3 separate regions of the Homo sapiens genome follow, and regions 2 and 3 are each linked to region 1. The links come from fine-mapping of genetic effects on gene expression. A gene starts in region 1. Each other region holds a variant in brackets. All regions are shown on one strand. Distances are from middle to middle.

Region 1 (5,000 bases):
TAGTTTTATAGACTCTCAAACACTATGCTAATGGAATTCAAAGAACTGAGTAATATTAGCTGTTAAATGTCATTTGGAATTTTAATGTGACATCTTTAGTTCTAGCCATAGTTTCCATCAGATTTTAAAAAAGAGACTCTAAGTACTTTTTTTTGAGATAGGGTCTTGCTTGGTTGCCCAGGCTGGTCTTGAACGCCAAGGCTCAAGTGATCCTCCTGCCTCAGCTTCCCTCAGCCTCCTGTTTAGCTTGTATTACAGGCATGGGCCACCACGCCCGGCTCCTAAGTACTATTAACCCTGATATCCATGATCAAGTAATTCTTAAAGCAGAAATAATTTTTTAAAGAACTATTTAAATTTATCAGTGAAAAACTTATGTAGTCTTATTTATCTAAGCCAGCCCAATTCCGCATTATCTTGAAAATATTACTGAAACAATATAATAGGTCATCTTAAGACTTTCTATTACATAAACATTATTTAAGAGACACTGTCACTGACCCTGGAGGGCTTTACAAAGCCACTGCCATCCTTGTTCAGGGAGTGGGGAGGTGTGGCAGGCTGGCTACTATAAGTATGCATAAAGATAGGCTTTTACATTTAGGTAAAGGAAAAAAAAGCTCAATGAAAAACACTTTATATCAAGAGTATATCTCATGAGTACTCACTAAACAGAAATACATCTAGAAGAAAAGCCATGTTGCTTTAATTTAAAATATTTGCACACTGAATTAATATCTTAAATATTTATTCAGTGTTATCTAAAAGCAACCAAAGAGAAATATAAAATTACTTAACTATAGGTCTTAAATATTAGGCCTACAAAAATTTGTTCACCATAATTTTTGACAAAGTAATTTACGTTGTAAAGTGGTTTGCTCTTGAATGACCTAATTAATGGCATAAAAGCTTCACTAACAAAAGAAAAGATCCACTGTTTCATACATAATTTATTAAGATTTCGTATAGGATTTATGTTAAATCAAAGAATTTGAGCATCACTTTCGTGATGTAGAATCAAAGTGTCCAATACATTCCAATGACAAAACATTCATAGCCTGACATTATTCCTACTTTAAAAAACAGTAATTTTTTTTCTGCTGTTCAGGCTGCATTTATAAACTATGGCTTCTTGTAAATGGGCTTCTACCCCAGCATTTGCTGCAAGGTTTCTTATTCCTCTGCAGTTGTCTTTTCGGCCTAACAGAGGGAGAAAAAGCACTGCTGCAGTCGTCCGCAAAAAGCCACTACCACTGCATTTTGTAACTAACAAAGACACTGGTATCTGTTTGCCACCCTGTTCACAGGGAGTTTACTTAGATGTTTTACAAAAGCAGGCACACTACTGGTGACCAGTATTTCACCAACCAACACCACCACTCACGCTCTGCAGTACCTGCCTCCTCCTCTTTCTCTCATCCCCAGTAGCTCTTTCCACTAGATTCACATCAGCCATCTGCAGCGGTTTTGTCTCCTCTCTCTTTTGGCCACCAATGCATGTGTCCTTGTCGCCAGGGAGGAAAAGAAGCCTTTCAATGGGGTAGAGCTTTTGCTCCTCGCCATGAATATGCTCCATTCTTTGTTGTCCTCTACCCGTTTCCTTAGATACTGTTATTCCACTCTGTCAAATGGCATTATAAAAACAAAAACCCCTTCTGGCTTCAAAAACAGCTTTTCTCAGCAGACTCCCCTTAACACTTCTACCCCTCCCCCTTCTTCCTCTTCTGTCAAAAACCCTGGATCCGAAGTACAGGAAATCCATCTCCAGTGCTGCAGTGGGGGGCGGGGGGACGACGCCCCTGCCTCCTCGTTTGGCATGCTGCAGTGGACCCTGTGCCAAGGAAAGGCCATCGGTTTAAGACAGTGCGAGGGAAAACCACCTTCCCCCCTCCCCCCGCAGCAAGCCTGGCCATGGTGGCTCCAGCACCTACCCCATTTCCGAGTCCGGCAGCACCTCCATTCTGTCTCCAGTGACACCCTGGCGGGCTGCACCAATACAGCCACATGTCGGTCACGTGCGCCCACACCCAGCCAATCGGCGGGCTCCCGACGGGAATGGGGAGCGCCCTGGTCCGCATCCAGCGGATTACACAGCTGCTTCTCTCTCCGCTTCCCGACCCGCACTCCGCAGTGGGGCACAGGGCCCCGCCCAACCGCACAGCCTGCCTAGCCCTAGCCCCGTACCCCTCGGGGGTATGCCCTCGCGGCCCCAGTCCCCAGCAAGCAAGGAAGTTGATGGCAGTTGACACGCATAGTAAAGAGTCGGGGGAGGTCCGCAGGGCAGAAGGATTAGCACAAGATGCCGGAGGTGGGAGGGAGAGTAATAAATTACATCTCGATTGCTATGATTTTTGCAGCACAGAGAAACAATAATATTAAATGAATTACAATGAATAATTTTACATTACAAGTCACTGAGTTGTCAGAGTGATGACTTGTTAGATAGATCACTCGAATTATATTTGAATTAAAAATAGTTACCAGAAAAGCTATGCTAGCAGCTTAGTAGTGGAGATCAGAACTCTGGAAGTCTGGGTTGCCTGAGTTGAAGCTTTACTCCTGTCACTCTAGCTCTGTAACTTTAGTTACTTAACCTCTCAGTGTTTCAATTTCCTGCTGTATAAAACGGGAACAGAAGTACAGAATAGAGGAGTTAATATATATGAAGTATTTAGAGCAGTCCCTGACACATACATAGAAGTGCTGTTAGCTACTACAAATCTGAGGCTTTAATGTAGTATTTTAATGCAAATTCTACATTGCATTTAAATCGAACCAGGTGATGCTTAAATTCCCAATTTTATGAGGTTGAAGGACAAAATCCAAACTGTCAAGAATATATAAAGTTAAACTTAAATTCTGGTTTAAATGGGGGGAAACCAGTTTCTATTATCTATTTAAAATTTAAAAGGATACTATACTTCAAGTTTTCTTTGTTTGTTTTTTGAGATAGAGTCTTGCTCTGTCACCAGGCGAGTGCAGTGGTGCAATCTCCGCTCACTGCAACCTCCACCTCCCGGGTTCAAGCGATTCTCCTGCCTCAGCCTCCCAAGTAGCTGGGACTACAGGCACGTGCCATCATGCCCAGCTAAGTTTTGTATTTTTAGTAGAGACGGGGTTTCACCATGCTGGCCAGGATGGTCTCAATCTCCTGACCTTGTGATCCGCCCACCTCGGTCCCTCCAAGTACTGGGATTACATGCGTGAGCCACTGTGCCCGGCCTAAACTTAAAGTTTTTAAATGAAGCATATTATAATCGTTTCTTAATTTTCAAATAGTATGAAAAGAAGCAAGCTATTAAATAGCATATTTGAGGCAATTCCATTTGATTAAAAAATGTATATATTAGAAAAGCAATAGACACACAACAAAATGTCCATAGAGGTTATTCCTGGAAAGTGAGATTATGGAGCTATTTCTGCTGTCCTTTCGTGCTTTGTTTTTTTTCTCTTTCATTAGTCCCTGTGTTACAATGCCTGATATACAGCAAATACACCCCAAATATTTATTTAACAAGTGAGTTATTTCCACACTGATGGCATACTACTGTTCTATTAAAAGTTTAAATATATTTAGAAACAATTTCCCTTCATATTTGAAATAAATAAAAGCATGTAAATCAATTTGATTATATTCTAAATAACTCTCTTTTGAGAATGACTTCATTTTACAAAAGGCTTTCAAAATCCTCTTACTGAAAGCACATGATTCACTGCACAGGACTTATTTACAAGTCATTTTTTGTGACAAATTCAGAATAGGTAATTTCTCATAAGGCCTAGAACTTCCAGAAGGAAAACAGTCTTTCAAAACAAAGAATACCTTTTAAAAGGTCCTCAAAAGAACTTCTTAGTACCCTAAGACACAATTGTAAGCCTATTACTCTTGACTCAGACTATGATACAAGCTATTATTTAGTAAACCAGTTTGTAGCCAAAATGTTTGTCTAAATTTTTACTGCATGTATCATAGATATTCATCAGTGACTTAAATGACATAGTTGTAAAGAAAGCTACGACCATTATATGTTCATTAGTCACTATGCTTCAAATCTAAAAGAAAGCCAAGTTAAACATTTTGTATTTTATGTTGCCAATTACTCAGTAATATTTTTCTTATTTTTAGAGATTCCACAAAAGTTTAATTTGAATTTTTAAAACTGCTTAGCTATTTTAAAACTATAATTAAATATAGATATATAATCAAAGTATACTGGGCCAAATTTCAGCATGGAAAATTACTGAAGCATTACCTTGTCTTATCAAGTTTGCACATAGCTCAGAATAAAGCTCCTGCCATCTCTATTTGATTGAAGATGTTATTTACACTACATATACATATATATATATATATATGTATGCATTAAAAATATTTTCTGGGCAGGGTGCAGTGGCTCATGCCTATAATCCCAGGAATTTGGGAGGCCGAGGTGGCCAGTTCACTTGAGCTCAGGAGTTGGAGACCAGCATGGGCAACATGGCGAAACCTCATTTCTACCAAGAATACAAAAAAATTAGCCAGCTGTGGTGACACGCGCCTGTGGTCCTAGCTACTCTAGAGGCTGAGGTGGGAGGATCACTTGAACCCAGGAGGCAGAGGTTGCAGTGAGCCGAGATCTCGCCATTGTACTCCAGCCTGTGCAACAGAGACCATGTCTCAAAAGATATATATATTTTTTCTGATCAAAATGAAACAGAAATAAATTGTGTAACACTGTTTAAAGACCGCACTGACAAACATATCTCTTATTTTCAGTATCAGTGTTTGTTATAACCAGCTTCATTGCTTTTAGTAAATGGTTTCATATGTAAATGTTGTAAATATGAACATATAATTCAACTTAAAAAACCCTTCTGAACCTTCTGCAGCTACAAAAAAAAATGACTAAATAGGATTAATAGGATTCTTAATGTCTTAAATATTACATTCCCCAGCTACTTGGGAGGCTGAGGCATGAGAATCTCTTGGACCTGGGAGGTGGGGGCTGCAGTGAGCCGAG
Region 2 (7,009 bases), 200 kb after region 1:
GGATTGATGGTTTCTGGGCCCTGCTGCTCAGTCATCATGGAAATCCCTGCAGCCCTTTGTAGACTCTGGAATATTAACTGACAATCTGCATAAGAGAAAAATAGCCAAAGGATGAGAAAATTTCATGAAACCTCTACATCTGTTTAAAAACAAACAAACGAACAATCTACCCTAGGCTATTACCTAAGTCAGAGTGTGCAAACAGGTTGAATTTAGGCCACAGACATTTTGTTTTGCCTGCATCTTAAACCTCAAACCTTTTCAATCAATTGCTTTCATTTAAAAATCAGGAAACTTCTCTAAAAATATTCTAGATTTTGAACTTCTTTTGAAAACTGGGTGATCTGACAACATTGGTCCCATGTTTCTGTGTAACAGTAATTGGCTGGACTTGGCAGCACCTGGCCACTGTGCACAGGGCTTGCCTTGCCCCCACTTGCTGCAGTCCATATTGCAGTCCACTTTGCTTATGTATTTTACTTGCCTGTTCCCTGGAGGCATTTGCTACCCCATGGGCATTGTATCCCGTAATACGAACCCATGAAGCTAAAAGCTCAAAAGTTCAGGTCCGCAATATCTCTGCTTAGTTTTCTGCTTAGTTAATACAATTTTAAGAAATTAATATTGAAAATACGTGCTCACAAAAATTAAAACACTGTATAAATATAGAAGTGTATACAGTAAAAACTACAAGACCAGTGACCTTGTTGATCCAACAATTCCCTTTCCTCTTTTCCCAGAAATAATACTGTTAACAGTATCTTTTCCATTCTATTTCTGCAAATATAATTCTTTATCCAACAACTGTTACCTATTTTTTGTCAGGCCATACGTGTATACAAATATTGGGTCCCACACATGTATAAAGAGTGATGTGGTATATTAAAGTAATTATCTGTGTAGTTAACAAAAAATCCTCTTGTTGAAATGTCTGAATAGTAGAGGAAAAATACTTTTTAATTATCTGGCTAATTGCCTCCATTAATCATCCTTTCATGTTCTTTCTTCATGGAATGAATTCATCCATTCAGTAGATATTTACTGAGTTCTGATTATGTTCAAAGCACTGTGCTAGACAAAGTGGGAATTACAGAGATAAACTAAAAACAAGATCAACAACATTACCGTAGGAAAGAGGTGATCAATTTTTGCCTCCCTCAAAAGAGATGAAGGTGTTGGATTTGGAATTAAACTTACTCTATTTTCAGTGGACCACGTCTAAAATGTGAGAGATTACAAAAGTCCCAGGAATGATCCAAACCTAATAGCTCAAAAGAAGTTTCAGCAGAGTGGAGGACCTGGGTGGTGCATAGATGGCAGGAGATAGACCCACCCAGCAGTGAGGCTGAGGTGAGTACAAGGGAGAGCTCAGTGATAAAGGAAGACCTCTGAGGATACTGGCCCCAAGATGTTTGGCTTGTGTTCAGGCAGATAAAAACCACCATGGGCACGGACTGTGAGTCTTCTTCTCTCCCAAGAAGATTTTGATGACAATTTTACTAAGATGAAGTTAAGATGAGACAGCAACAAAGGCAGAAATAAAATTAGAGATGTGCTTGCGAGAGATTTAAAGAGAAAGCAGAATTTTGCCCTTGAGGTCTTCTTAGTTATACCTCAGTTACCTAGAAATAATATATTTTTGTTGTTGGAACACTCTCCCTAATTACAGAATGATAAACAAAACAAAACAAAACAAAAAACAAAACAAACAAAACCCTGTCAATCTTTAAAGAAATGAACAACCAAAAAAGGGTTACCATAAGGACTTTTGTTTCCTCTGTAGATTTTCAGACAGTTGGGGCCTCTTGGAAATTATAGAAAACCCCTGTTTGTTCTAGATTGGCAGCCACTGCAAATGTATGTAATGAAGGCACGGAGCAAGCAGGCCTCATGGAGCGGAATGATAAGGTGGTATAATTTGTCCCTCACTTTCCTTTTATATTTATTCAATGGGGAAAGTTTTCCCTTGGCTCTTGGATAAAAAACATCAGCAGTCCTATGGCTTTCCTTAACACACTTAACTAATAAAACGATTGCCACTCTTAGTCACCAAGCACAGTCTCAATTCGGAAGTCAAAATTTCTCATCCCATATAAGGCAAAACTCTGAACCTGATTCAAATATAAATCTTCCCTCCCCTACCAGGAAGCCTTCAACTGGAGGAGGGGTGTAGTTGGTTCCTTTTCCCTTCCTATGCCCTTCCTCCCCCAGCCTGATAATTGTGCTTTCTTAACCTTCCAGATCTGAAAGCAAAGAAAGAGAAGAATTAAAATAACCATGAGAGGTTTTACTTGACTGCTGCTACTACAAGGTGGCTTTGCAGCTCTTTTCCCAAGTTCTTGTCTTTTCCCATTCTGAACAATTCGGTCCTGAGCTGATTAGCTGATGCCCACCCAGATTGAGGGTGGGTCTGCCTCTCCCAGTCCACTGACTCAAATGTTAATCTCCTTTGGCAGCACCCTCACAGACACACCCAGAAACAACACTTTGCCTCCTTCAGTCCATTCAATATTAACTATTACAGTTGGCTATGGTGCCCAGAATGGGGTGTCAGAGCCCAAGTTGGGTGAGGAGGGCCTTGCCTCAGAGGGGTGCATTGGTGTGGCATGTCAGACCCCAAGCAGGCTGAGGAGGGCATCTGCACCAAGAAGGCTGTCCAGGGCCAGACACTGGAGTCAAATGAGTTGAGGTGGGTATTTGCATGGGAGTATGGGCTGCCTAAGGAAGCCAGAGCCTGTGCAAGGTGAAGAAAGTTCATGCCTTGTCACACATGGGGTGGCAGCCTGGTGCAGAGTTGGAACCCAAGGAGGAGGGTGGTCTTGTGGAGGGTATCAGAGCATGGACAGGGTGAGGAAGATGTCACTCCACACAGTGAGGCATGATATTGGCAACTTGCTTTCAAATAATTCTGGAAAAAGTTTTTAGTATTGTACATGCATGCTTCTGTAAGTTTGAGATTGTTTTTTTTTTTTTTTTTTAAAAAAAACCCACAACAATTTTCAAATATTCTCTGGCACTGGCGTGAGTTTAAAGGTAATGATTTCATAGATGCCATCATGTATTCTTTGGAGATTTCACTCCTTGTCCTCTCTCCACTTCCACACCATCTTCAAGGATCTCTCTGCAACTCTGTTCATGTGAATGGTGCCCTCTCATTCGGTGTGTTGCTTATTCCCTCTCCAATCCCTATGAGTCAGACTATGCCATCAGCTTCTCTCTACTGAGGACTTTGCCCTCCTAGGTAGCCCTATTGGACAGGATATAAGATGACCTCATGCCAGCTTTCTTGTGTGTGGTTCACATTTCTGTTATGTAAAATCCATGCATCTCTTGCTCTGACAAATTCTGTGTATGCAGGCCTATGTCAACCCAGCCATCTTTCCCTTGGCTTACCAGTCAGCTGCTGTCCAGCCTGTCTCTCACCCTTGAGTGCTCAGAGGGGAGTCACACTCAAGTGCAGTGTGTCCCCACCCCCAGACTTCAGGAAATACACATTAAGCTCTCTGAGAATTCCCTTTGATGCTTCTTCTTCTAAGTTGAGATGAAAAAACAAGCAATTCACATCCTATTCTTTTGCGAATGAGGTGGTAGAGGAACCCACAGCACATGCAGAGCTTTCAGAAGACATATCACTCTTCAAAAATCCCTTATTTTCATTTCCAGTAGCCAGATGCTTTTATATGCTCAACGTGGATGACGGATTTAAGAGCTGTGCAACTCTGGTTTTGACATGCATCATGGTTATGCAAGATATTAATGTTGGGTGAATGTGGGTGAAGGGTGTGTGAAAACCTCTGTACTATTTTTGTCACTTCTTCTGAATCTTAAGCTATTTCAATATGTAAAGTTATTTTAAAAATGGTCATGCAACTAATTTTCATTTTTGGATAACATCTTGTTTTAGAATGTTGGATTTGGATTTAGAATTAAACTTACCCTGTTTTCAGTGGATCAAGTTTGAAATGTTGTCTCTTTTGTGTT[T/G]TGATGTCAGAAGTTCTAATTTAAAATCTTAAGTAGTGTGAGATCATGGCCGACAGGATGGGGGCAGGACTAGATTGCAGCTCTGGACAAAGCAGTGGAGGGCAGCTCACATTGTGAATTTTAGCTCCAGATAGACTGCAAGAACAAACCAGCAATCCCAAGAAGACCCACAGACCCTCCGAAGGAAGTGGACTGCTCCTAGAGGATCCAGGAGACCCTCCCAAAACTGTGAGTGCCCCAACTGTGGAAGTGAGAAAGGGAGACCTTCCTCTCCCAAACACACACCCACACTGTAGCAGGACAAGCTGCAGTCAAAACCCCTCAGACACTGAGTTAAAGAAGGAAGGGCTTTATTTAGGCAAGAGCTTTAGCAAGACTCACGTCTCCAACAACCGAGCTCCCCAAGTGAGCAATTCCTGTCCCTTTTAAGGGCTCACAACTCTAAGGGTGTCCGCTTGAGAGGGTCGTGATCAATTGAGCAAGCAGGGGTACATGACTGGGGGCTGCATACATCGGTAATTAGAAAGAAACTGAACAGGACACGGATCTTCACAGTGCCTTTTTTATGCAAATAACTGATTAGGTCAGGGGTCGATCTTTAACTACCAGGCCCAGGGTGTGGCACCGGGTTGTCTGTTTGTAGATTTCATTTCTGCCTTTTAGTTTTTACTTCTTCTTTCTTTGGAGGCAGAAATTGGGCATAAGACAATATAAGGGGTGGTCTCCTCCCTTATTCCCCCCATTTGAGAATCTCACTCAATAGTGGGAGTTCTCACTTTCATCCTCACTACCCATGTCTTCTTGCAAGACAGATCGATGGTGATTCATATAGTACACTTGTGCTGGAGTATTTTGGAGAGCTAAGGTAGCGATGAAGCTTTTTTATCATTTGAAGAAGTACAGGTAGCAAACAAGGGAGCAGTAAGCAGGTTTTTATTACTATTATAACTCCTATTATAAGAGTTTTAAATCCTCCTAGCACTGGGAGCCATTTTCCAAACATGGCTTCAGGATCAAATCCATGCCACACTTGCATGGACACGTGTGCCAGTTTTGTCATATCTCTAACTATGTCTTCAACCACTCGCCCTTGATCATCTATGTGTAGACAGCAATTAGTAAGGTTAAATTTCCCACAGACCCCTCCTTCAACTGCTAGCAAGTAGTCGAGAGCCAATCTACTTTGATAGATAGCATTTCTCATCTGAGTTTCTTGCCAGGCCAGAATAGTCAAGGCTCTGCTGGTTGTATCAGTGGTTATTTCTAAGACAGCTTGTAACCGTATGATTTGGTTCATCATGTAAATGGGGGTCCGGCGTCCCCATGAGCTGTCTTGTGCCCAAGTAGCAGGCCCATAATATTGTATGATTCCCTCAGGGGACCATTCATCATCTTTCCAATTTCCTATAGCTTTGCTTCTCTTTTCACTGGAAGCATAGACAGGGAAGCCCAGGAGTTCACCTGTCTTTATGGGCAGTAGAAAGAAAGATGGTTTAATAGTGACAATAACACAACTACCCGCCCACTGTTCGGATAATTTGGCATAAGCTCTATGCCCACATATCCAGTATAATCCAGTGGGGGCTGTCCAGTCCCGGTGGGACTCCGGGTGGGTCCACACGGTTTGCAACTTTGGGAATTTACTAAGTGGATTCCTCTCTGTGTGATTTGAACTCCACCAAGTGACTGTCTTTGTGGTGCCATTATACAGTTTCTGTTCCAGACAACTAAGTCATTCTACGGGGTAAGTGAATTCTTTTCCTTCTCTAGCTATGCAATATTGTCCAATAATTGAGGCTTTTAGGACTCAGAAATTATTAGAGTGATTCTTTTGAGCCAGGAATTCATCAGGAGCTGGGTCTGTATGTACTAATTTTCAGGCTTCCCATGGCCATTGATCTCCCACTGCAGTTCCTCCACAGACATAACATGAAGTGACATTGAGAGACTGGGCTACATGCTTGGCTAATTGCAAAAACAAATTTCTTGTTTTTCCTGGAATTTCTGGTACTGGCACATTTAGTTCATCATAGAAAGTTTGAAACACTGGCTCAGGAGAGTGTTTGTAAACTTCTCCTCAAACTAAGAAATTTACTCGAGGATCCAGTCTGGCCCCATTGATTCCTAAGGTCACATGCTCCCCTTTTCTCCAGCGTGGATCAAGGGGATTGGTTATTACTAGCTCTAAGGTGTTACCTTGTCCCTTAGTACAGGAAGGGCCATTTTTTCCTTTCTGAAGGTGGACTGGATCCTTTTCATTTTTTATCCAAGTGGCCCAAATGACACAAGACCAGTATCCACATTCATTTCCACACAGTCCTAATTCATGACAAATGTACTTATTTTTGGTCACATAGCCTTTTTCCCAACTAAAAGAGCTATATCCCCTTCCTAACTTATTGCTATTAATGACACCACAGGTATCAAATTTCAAGATTGTGCATCTGGGCACCCCTTTTTCTTCTGTTCTGGCTAATACTTTACTTGTATCATTTATGAGTCCCCACCAGTCTTCAGTCCTTAATTTTATTTCAAAAACTGTGGACATGGGAGGCTCAAAGGGGTCATAACACACATCTGGCCAGTCATTTCCTGGGCTACATACCTTATACTGAGTGTCGTTATATAAACATATTCCTTTTAAATTTCCTGGGCATTCATAGTAACTATAGAACAGAAAGATTGTTGTAACTTGTTGTGCTACCTCGGTAACCTGATGTATACACTGAGAGCAGTCCTACATGTGAGGAAAATCAGTGGAAGTTTTTACTATACAAGTCCAAATTATAAGGAAAGTGAGTCCCACAATGATCCTCCTCATGTTTTGGCTGTGCGTAGACCAGTCAGCTTCCAGGTGTGACTGGAGCAGGGCTTGTCATCCTCCTCAGAGTCACTTTGCAGGGGTTGTCCAGGCTCTGTTTTGCCTCCCAGGTTTCAGCGGCTGCAGGATTCACATGGCTGTGGTGGACCCAGGATGGGATTCCTTCTACCTTTACAGCCTTGGGGGTGGTCAGGATGATGGTCTGAG
Region 3 (6,805 bases), 31 kb after region 1:
GATGAGGCTTTGCCATGTTGCCTAGGCTGGTCTCGAACTCCTGGACTCATGCGATCCATGCGCTTTGGCCTCTCCCAAAGTGCTGGAATTACAGGCATGAGCCACCACACCCTGCCAAAGTGAGAGGTTTTAAAGAGTTTGTGGTCAGATGTTTTTTGATACAGAGCTACAAATCATTTTGCCAGAAGCAGTGAGCCACTGATTGGGGCTCAGCAACCCCTGCTTTGCTACTGCCCCTTCAAACTGTATGCAGAGAATTCAGAGACAACCAGCTCTAAAAACACACAGGCTCTGGTTCCAGAAAAGTGAAGGCTAGCAACGAATGAACTAGCCCATACAAGAAGCAAACATAAAAATATTCCTCCTTCTTTTAAGCTGAACAATTCTATCTCTAAATTTTAAAAATGCATTAAAAGGTCAAAAGTCCACAGTAAAGGGAAAAATAGATTATGTGTTATGAGACAGAATGAAAAGTAAACAAATCTGCCAGGCTATTTATAACCCACACGTTAAAAATTTTTAACATACAATTCTAATACAGCAGGCATAGTTTGTGCTTAACAACTTTGGAGAACATCTAGCATAACTTCAAGAAAACGATATTGCTCAATTTAATGTTAATAAAAAAGGTCCACCCATTTGCAATTTCAAAGGGCAAGCTATCATTTATATTTTTAATCTCACTTCTACAATTTTGGGGCTCTTGACACGTTATCCAACCCTTCCATCCAGGGAAAGATGGAAAAATTAGCCATGGCAACTTCCTCCACTACCGCTTTGATCCCACATTTTGCACTTAGACTCTGGCAAGGTACTACGTTATTTAGGACAGTTTTTTACACCAGTAATTCTGACTACCCTTGCTCCACTAATAAAGGAGGGAGTACTGAGACTGGCACAAGACTAAATCATATAGAAAATATCAAGTACTCCTAAGGAGGGTTGAACAGTAACAACAATCGAGAATACAAGCAATTTAAGAAGTTTTGAACTTAAAAAGCTTTTCTCCATTTTAGTCCTTTCTAAATAGAAACAAAGGGCTTGTACAACATGGAATTCTAAGACGTCAGTAGGCAATTTAAGCTAACACTGAATAAAAGAATAAATCACTTATCCTTGCTTGTACCATTAAGTGATGTCTTACATGTACTGCATAAGGTCTTCTTTTTTAAAACGAATATAACAGTTTCCAATTCTTTCACTAGATCTAGAAAGCTCACGCCCCCACCTCAACAGTTCAGAGACCAAAGATTTCCTACAGCCGAAAAAAATGAATGATTTAGATGAACAATCATTTGCCAACAGAGGCACCATTCCTCTACTTGGTGGGTCAAGGAGTCAGACTCTGACCTAACCATCCAAGGCTCCTGGGGACTTGATTCTCCCATCAAAGTGAACAAAATTCACCGGCCTTTGGATAACAGCCCTTTCTTTGTAACTCCACATGCCGGGCTATCAGGTATTTTCCCAGGCAGAGAGTTTAAAACTTTTAGAGGAAGCAAGAGGGTCCAAACGAGGAAGATGGGGAAGCGACTAAAATGGGAAGGGCGGACGACCCACCCACCTAACGCGAATGGGGCACCACTTGCAGGGGCGAAGCTCCAGCAGCAGCCAGGAAAGGTGGAGGACGGCGGGCGTCGCGACCCCCATCCACTGCGTGAGAATGGAGGACCTGCAAAGCCAGGGGCCAACTGGAGGCCTGAATGGGGAGTGCGGGGAGGGGAGAGGGTGAGACATGGAGAGAAGAGAGCCACAGAGTCGGGCCGAGCACCGTAGGGTCCCGAGCAGCGGCGGGGCAAAGCCGAGGAAGCTTTGCCGGGAGGAGACGTCAATGCCTGCAGCCTCACTCACCTGCCAGACGCTCGCCCAGTGGCCAGAAGTACGAGCGCCGCCCGGGCTCTTCGTCTCCTGCCGGACGCAGCTCCTGCTGCCGCCGGTGCTCCAGGACCCGAGAACTGAGGGTGGTACAGAAGCGGGCAAAGGGGCGACCGGACCCGAGCCCAGGGAGGCGTACATAGGGGGCGCCGAGGCCCGAGAAGGCAACTGAGTGCTTCACCTTCCTCACCAACAGCCAACAACAGTACCTGGGAACAGCATCGAGCCAACCTCGGTCCGCAGCTCCCGGGCCTGAGCCCGCAGGTCCCCCCC[G/C]AGCAGCGGCTAGGCTTCCGGCGGCCACACCCCGCCCCCTTGCTACTTGCCCTCCGCCATCTTGTGGGAGGTGGGAAGACTACAATGCGCATGCGTGAGAGGTGTTGCTGGCTTCCCACAGCCCGGAGACTAGAGCCTGTTATGCGCAGGCGCAATGGGTGCTGCGCTCCGCTTGCCGGGCACTGCTTCGCTGTTCTGTCCCGTGAGCCATTGCTGCCTAGGCAGCCGAGTCTCAGTTGCAGCACTTACTGGCCTTCTCTGAATTGTGCTGCAGCCCAGTTAATAGATCCTTCTGCACACACTAGTCCATTATTCCGCAAACATCTATCGAGTGCTCACTATTTGCTACTCCCCGTACTAGACGCTGATGATAGAAAGATGAATAAAATTCTGTCCCAGCCCCACAAGGGCTCATAAGATAGCGGAGAAACGGAGATGAGCAAGTTATTATTTTGTAGCTGCGACCTCTGCTTCCCTACCACCTCTCACTACCACCCTGTAGTTTTAATTTAAAAACACCTCTTCCGGGAAATCCTTGTTTGTCTCACACAGTTTGATAAGTTCTTTACCTTGGATTACCTCTTCAGTTTCATTTCATTCAACATTAATTGAACAATATCATTTGGGTTTCCGATATATACTAGATACTGTTTCAGGCTCTAGATTTACAGCAATAGGAAATACAATAAACTCACGGAACTTACATTCTAGTGTGAAAGAATAGACAATAAAAGACAGTCAACAAAAGAATGTTTGATGGTGATAAGGGATAGGAAGAGAGCAAACCACACAGAAAGATGATGGACAGTGAGAGGTGGTGATTAGTGATCTTTCTCCAGAGTTGACATTTAATCTGAAGCCTGACTGACCATGGGGGCCCAGGAGCCACTGGAAGATCTGGGGCAAAAGCTTTCAGACAGAGGGAACAACAGAACAGATCCTGAGGTGGTAGCAAGTCTGACATGAAAGAGGGACAGAAAGAATAGGTGACATGGACAGTGGGAAGGAGATGTGGTCGGGGTAGGCAGAGGCCAAATCAGGTAGGGCCTCCAGGTCATGGTAAGAAGTTGGATTTTATTCAAAATGGCCCTTGTATGTTGTTGACGCTGTCTCCCCTAGCCCCCACTACTCCTCTTCAAACACTTCTAGCTCCCGACTGCCTTTCTGGTTTGTATATGCCCCCTTGACTACCTAGAAGACACTTCTTCTTGTTCTTTAAATGTCTAACTTCTTATCTTTCAAGTTTCAGTTTAAATATCACCTCAGAAAGACCGTCCTTCCTAAGAATAATAAATTTTCCCCTGTCTTCCTTATTATTCTCAATCATTGCACCTTATCATTTCTTCCATGGTACTCAATATGTTTTTAAATGATCTATGTTTTGTTTCTTCACTGCCTCCACACTAAACAGTCGACTCCATAAGACAGGGAATACGTTTTGTTTACCAATGAATACACAGTGCATAGCACCATACCTGGCATGAGTGCTCTGTCACTCAGTGTTTGTTGATTTAATAAGTGTGGAAGTTTGTCAGCATCTAAGTAGTTGGTGGTGTACTATATTGGTTTCACTTGGTTTTTAAAATGAAATGCAAGTCACTTCTTATTTATATGTCTCCTCAGCTAGAATATAAGTAGGAAGGTTGGAGAGAGAGCAGATGGGATGGAGAAGGGTGGGTGATTGTGGGACAGTGGGCAGGGTTTATATTACATATGTTGTAGTATGGAGAGAAGGAAGGCTTCAAGTTAATGCAATCCCTATTATATGTGCTGTGAACTATGTTAGATATGAAATCCTCACCACAGCCCTGCTAGATAATTATCCTCACTTTTATACATGGGCAAATTCAGAGAGATTAAGTCCCTTGCCCAAGGTCTCACATTAAGGGATAGTGCTGACCATAAAGCCCATGCCCTTCCCATCTAGAGAAATTGGATTTGGAGACAGGCTTACTCAGAGATTTGATTCTGTGTCATTAGCAGGCTTTCATTAGAGATTTCATTCAGTTACCCCCACTTAAGGGTCCCAGTCGTATTACTATCCCTGTGTAGGACCTCAAAGGGCCTGCCTGGAAACTACTGTCGTTCTTTTCTTTTGAACTAGAGCAGAACTCATTTTAGCATTTTCCTTTTAATGTTTTTTAAATTCTGTATTTATTTTTATTAATAACATATATATTTTCATTAAAGGAAAAGAAGAAATACCAGCAAAATGGATACATAGTCTAAAGGCTAGCTGCATCTATTGGTTAGGCTTCTCAATGTGCCTAGATGGGACTTGCTGGCCCATCTAGGACCCAGCTGATACCTTAGACCCCCAAAGACCCTTCTGGAAAAGAGTTATAGGCTCACTGCAACAACCTCTTCTTCCATTGACTTATCAGAATTACACACCATCATTTCCCCTCTAAATGGGATAGCTGCCTCAGGATGGCTGGGGAGACCTGCCAGAAAGGATGGGGCTGGCATCTTATCTGTGGGGGCCATTTAGTCCTTATATGAGAGAAGAGATTCACTGAACCCATAACATATGCTCTTCAACCAAGCCCTATCAGTCCATATGCAAATCAAGTAGTAGGTAGGAATATATACTTGAAAACACTTCCCCGCCTTCTACCTCACTACAATGTAATCCTTGGAATAAATCCTAGAAACAAGACAAAGTCTTCAGTTTCTATGGTATTTACTTCTCTTATGGTTACCATCTGTTAGAGACTGAATTGTACTACTCCGAAAAAAGGTATGTTGAAGTTCTGACTTTCAGTACCAAACAATGTACCCTTATTTTGAAATAAAATTATTGCAGATATAATTAAGATAAAATGAGGTCATACTGCAATAGGGTAGGATAACCCACCATGACTACTGTCCCTTTAAGAAGATGACCGTGTGAAGACATAGACAGAACGTGAGGATGCCAGATGAGGACAAAGGCAGATTGGAGTTATGCAGCTACAAGCCAAGGAATGCCAAAGACTGCCAACAAACCATCAGAAGCTAGGAAGAGGCATGCATGGACTTTCCTACAGGTTTCAGAGGGAACATGGCCCTGTGGACACCTTGACTTTGGATTTATAACTTTCAGAACTCTGAGTCAATAAATGTCTGTTGTTTTAAGCCACCCAATCTGTGGTACTTTGTTATAACAGCTCTATGAAATTAATACACCATTTTATCTGGCAGGGCCTGAAATAGAGGAAAGAGATGTTGGCAGGCAGTGAGAAGGCTTGAGCTACCGCTCCAGTATGAGCAAGCCAGCTGCACAACCTCAAGCCAGTCGCTGAACAACAGTTTCCTCATCTGTACAAACAGAGATAATGACAGCCACCCTGCCTACTTCAAAGATCTGCAGTGGTAACTAACAAGTATTCCTCCAGTGATGCTGTGACCAAGGTCTGACAGATACTAAGAAACAATTATGTAAAGACAGGGTTCCTGCCACAGGGAATTTTACAGTCTGGCTGAGAAAACTAGACACTTTCCTATGATAAGATAAATAGTATGGGCAAAGTGCCAAGTGCGTGGTTTGGATCTTATTCACTATTGATGCTGAAAAAGGGAAGGATCCTGTGGACTGGGGTGGAGAGGGAGACTTCATGAAGGGCCTTAGCAGAAAAGGAATTTATTAGAAGGATATTTGACATCTACAGGATCTTCAGGAACAACACGCAACATTATGCCCGGAACTGGTCCCAAGAAGCCATCACTGTAGCCACTGCTGGATGCAAATACCAAAACTGAGACTGCCAGTACCACTTGACCCAGAGTGGATGATGCCTCTGCTGCTTCTGGAAGATAGATGCAGTTACTATCACTGCCACTACTCTCAACAGAATGGAGGGTCACTTCATATTCACAACATTAGCTTTCAACCTCAAGCCTAGAATGGGGGCAAATCATGGATATAACCTAGTAACACATTAACACTCTACCTACATGCTGTCTGATAGAAATATAATGCAAGCCACATACATAATTTTAAATTTTCTAGTAGCCACATAAGACAGTTTAAAAACAAAAACAAAAACAAAAAACCAGCCTCTAATCCAAGCAGTTTGGGAGGCTGAGATGGGAAGATTGCTTTAGACCAGGAATTTGAGACCAGCCTGGGTAATATAGTAAGACATTGTCTCTACAAAAAAATATTAGCTGGGCATGGTGGTGCATGCCTGTAGTCCTAGTTACTCAGGAACCTGAAGCCGGAGGATCACTTGAGCCCAGGAGTTCCAGGCTGCGGTGAGCTATGATTGTGACACTGCACTCCAGCCTGGGTGACGGGGGGGAGACCCTGACTCTAAAGCAAAACAAAAACCAGGTGAAACCAATTTTAATAATATATTTTATTTAACCCAATATATCCAAAATATTTCAACATGTGCCACTAGACATACGTCAAGTGCTCAGTAGCCACGTGTGGCCAGTGGCTACCATGTTTGACAGCACAGCGGTAATTGATAGGAAGGCCAGGAAAATGAGCATATGAACTTCTAATTTCGATAGTGAGAGGGAATTTCTGCTTCATGAGGAGGGCAATCTCCTAAACACAGTAAGAGAATTAAGACATAGTCTTACAAATGGAAAATAAAGTTGAAGGAAAACCAAACTGGATTGTAGAGAATGGAAAATGGTAAACTAAGGACATTTAATTTCATCATGT

Direction of the effects. Alleles are on the strand shown, and positions count from the first base shown. SD is a standard deviation of normalised expression in the study named. Not every link is listed here.
With allele G in place of T in region 2, the expression in sigmoid colon of the gene that starts at base 1,972 in region 1 is higher (moderate effect, 0.56 SD a copy in GTEx).

What was found. PIP is the estimated chance that this variant, and not a neighbour inherited with it, causes the effect.
Region 2: its variant is fine-mapped to the expression of APC in sigmoid colon (GTEx, PIP 0.98).
Region 3: its variant is fine-mapped to the expression of APC in whole blood (TOPMed, PIP above 0.99). The same link has a PIP of 0.9 or more in T cells, blood mononuclear cells, monocytes after LPS, monocytes after Pam3CSK4 and monocytes after R848.

The regions. Positions count from the first base shown.
Region 1 is chr5:112,734,857-112,739,856 of GRCh38, reverse strand. It overlaps APC (APC regulator of Wnt signaling pathway), which reads right to left and starts at 1,972. Exons shown (of 16, transcript NM_000038.6): 1 at 1,932-1,972.
Region 2 is chr5:112,529,897-112,536,905 of GRCh38, reverse strand. LOC124901043 (a long non-coding RNA gene) reads right to left here. Exons shown (of 2, transcript XR_007058901.1): 2 at 6,494-7,009. Among named protein-coding and RNA genes, the nearest start is that of LINC02200, 95 kb to the left of the region's middle. The variant T/G (reference allele first, on the strand shown) is at 3,982.
Region 3 is chr5:112,702,929-112,709,733 of GRCh38, reverse strand. It overlaps a transcript of APC not described here. Among named protein-coding and RNA genes, the nearest start is that of APC, 32 kb to the left of the region's middle. RefSeq lists enhancers at 2,197-2,256, 5,288-5,582 and a silencer at 5,288-5,582. The variant G/C (reference allele first, on the strand shown) is at 2,149.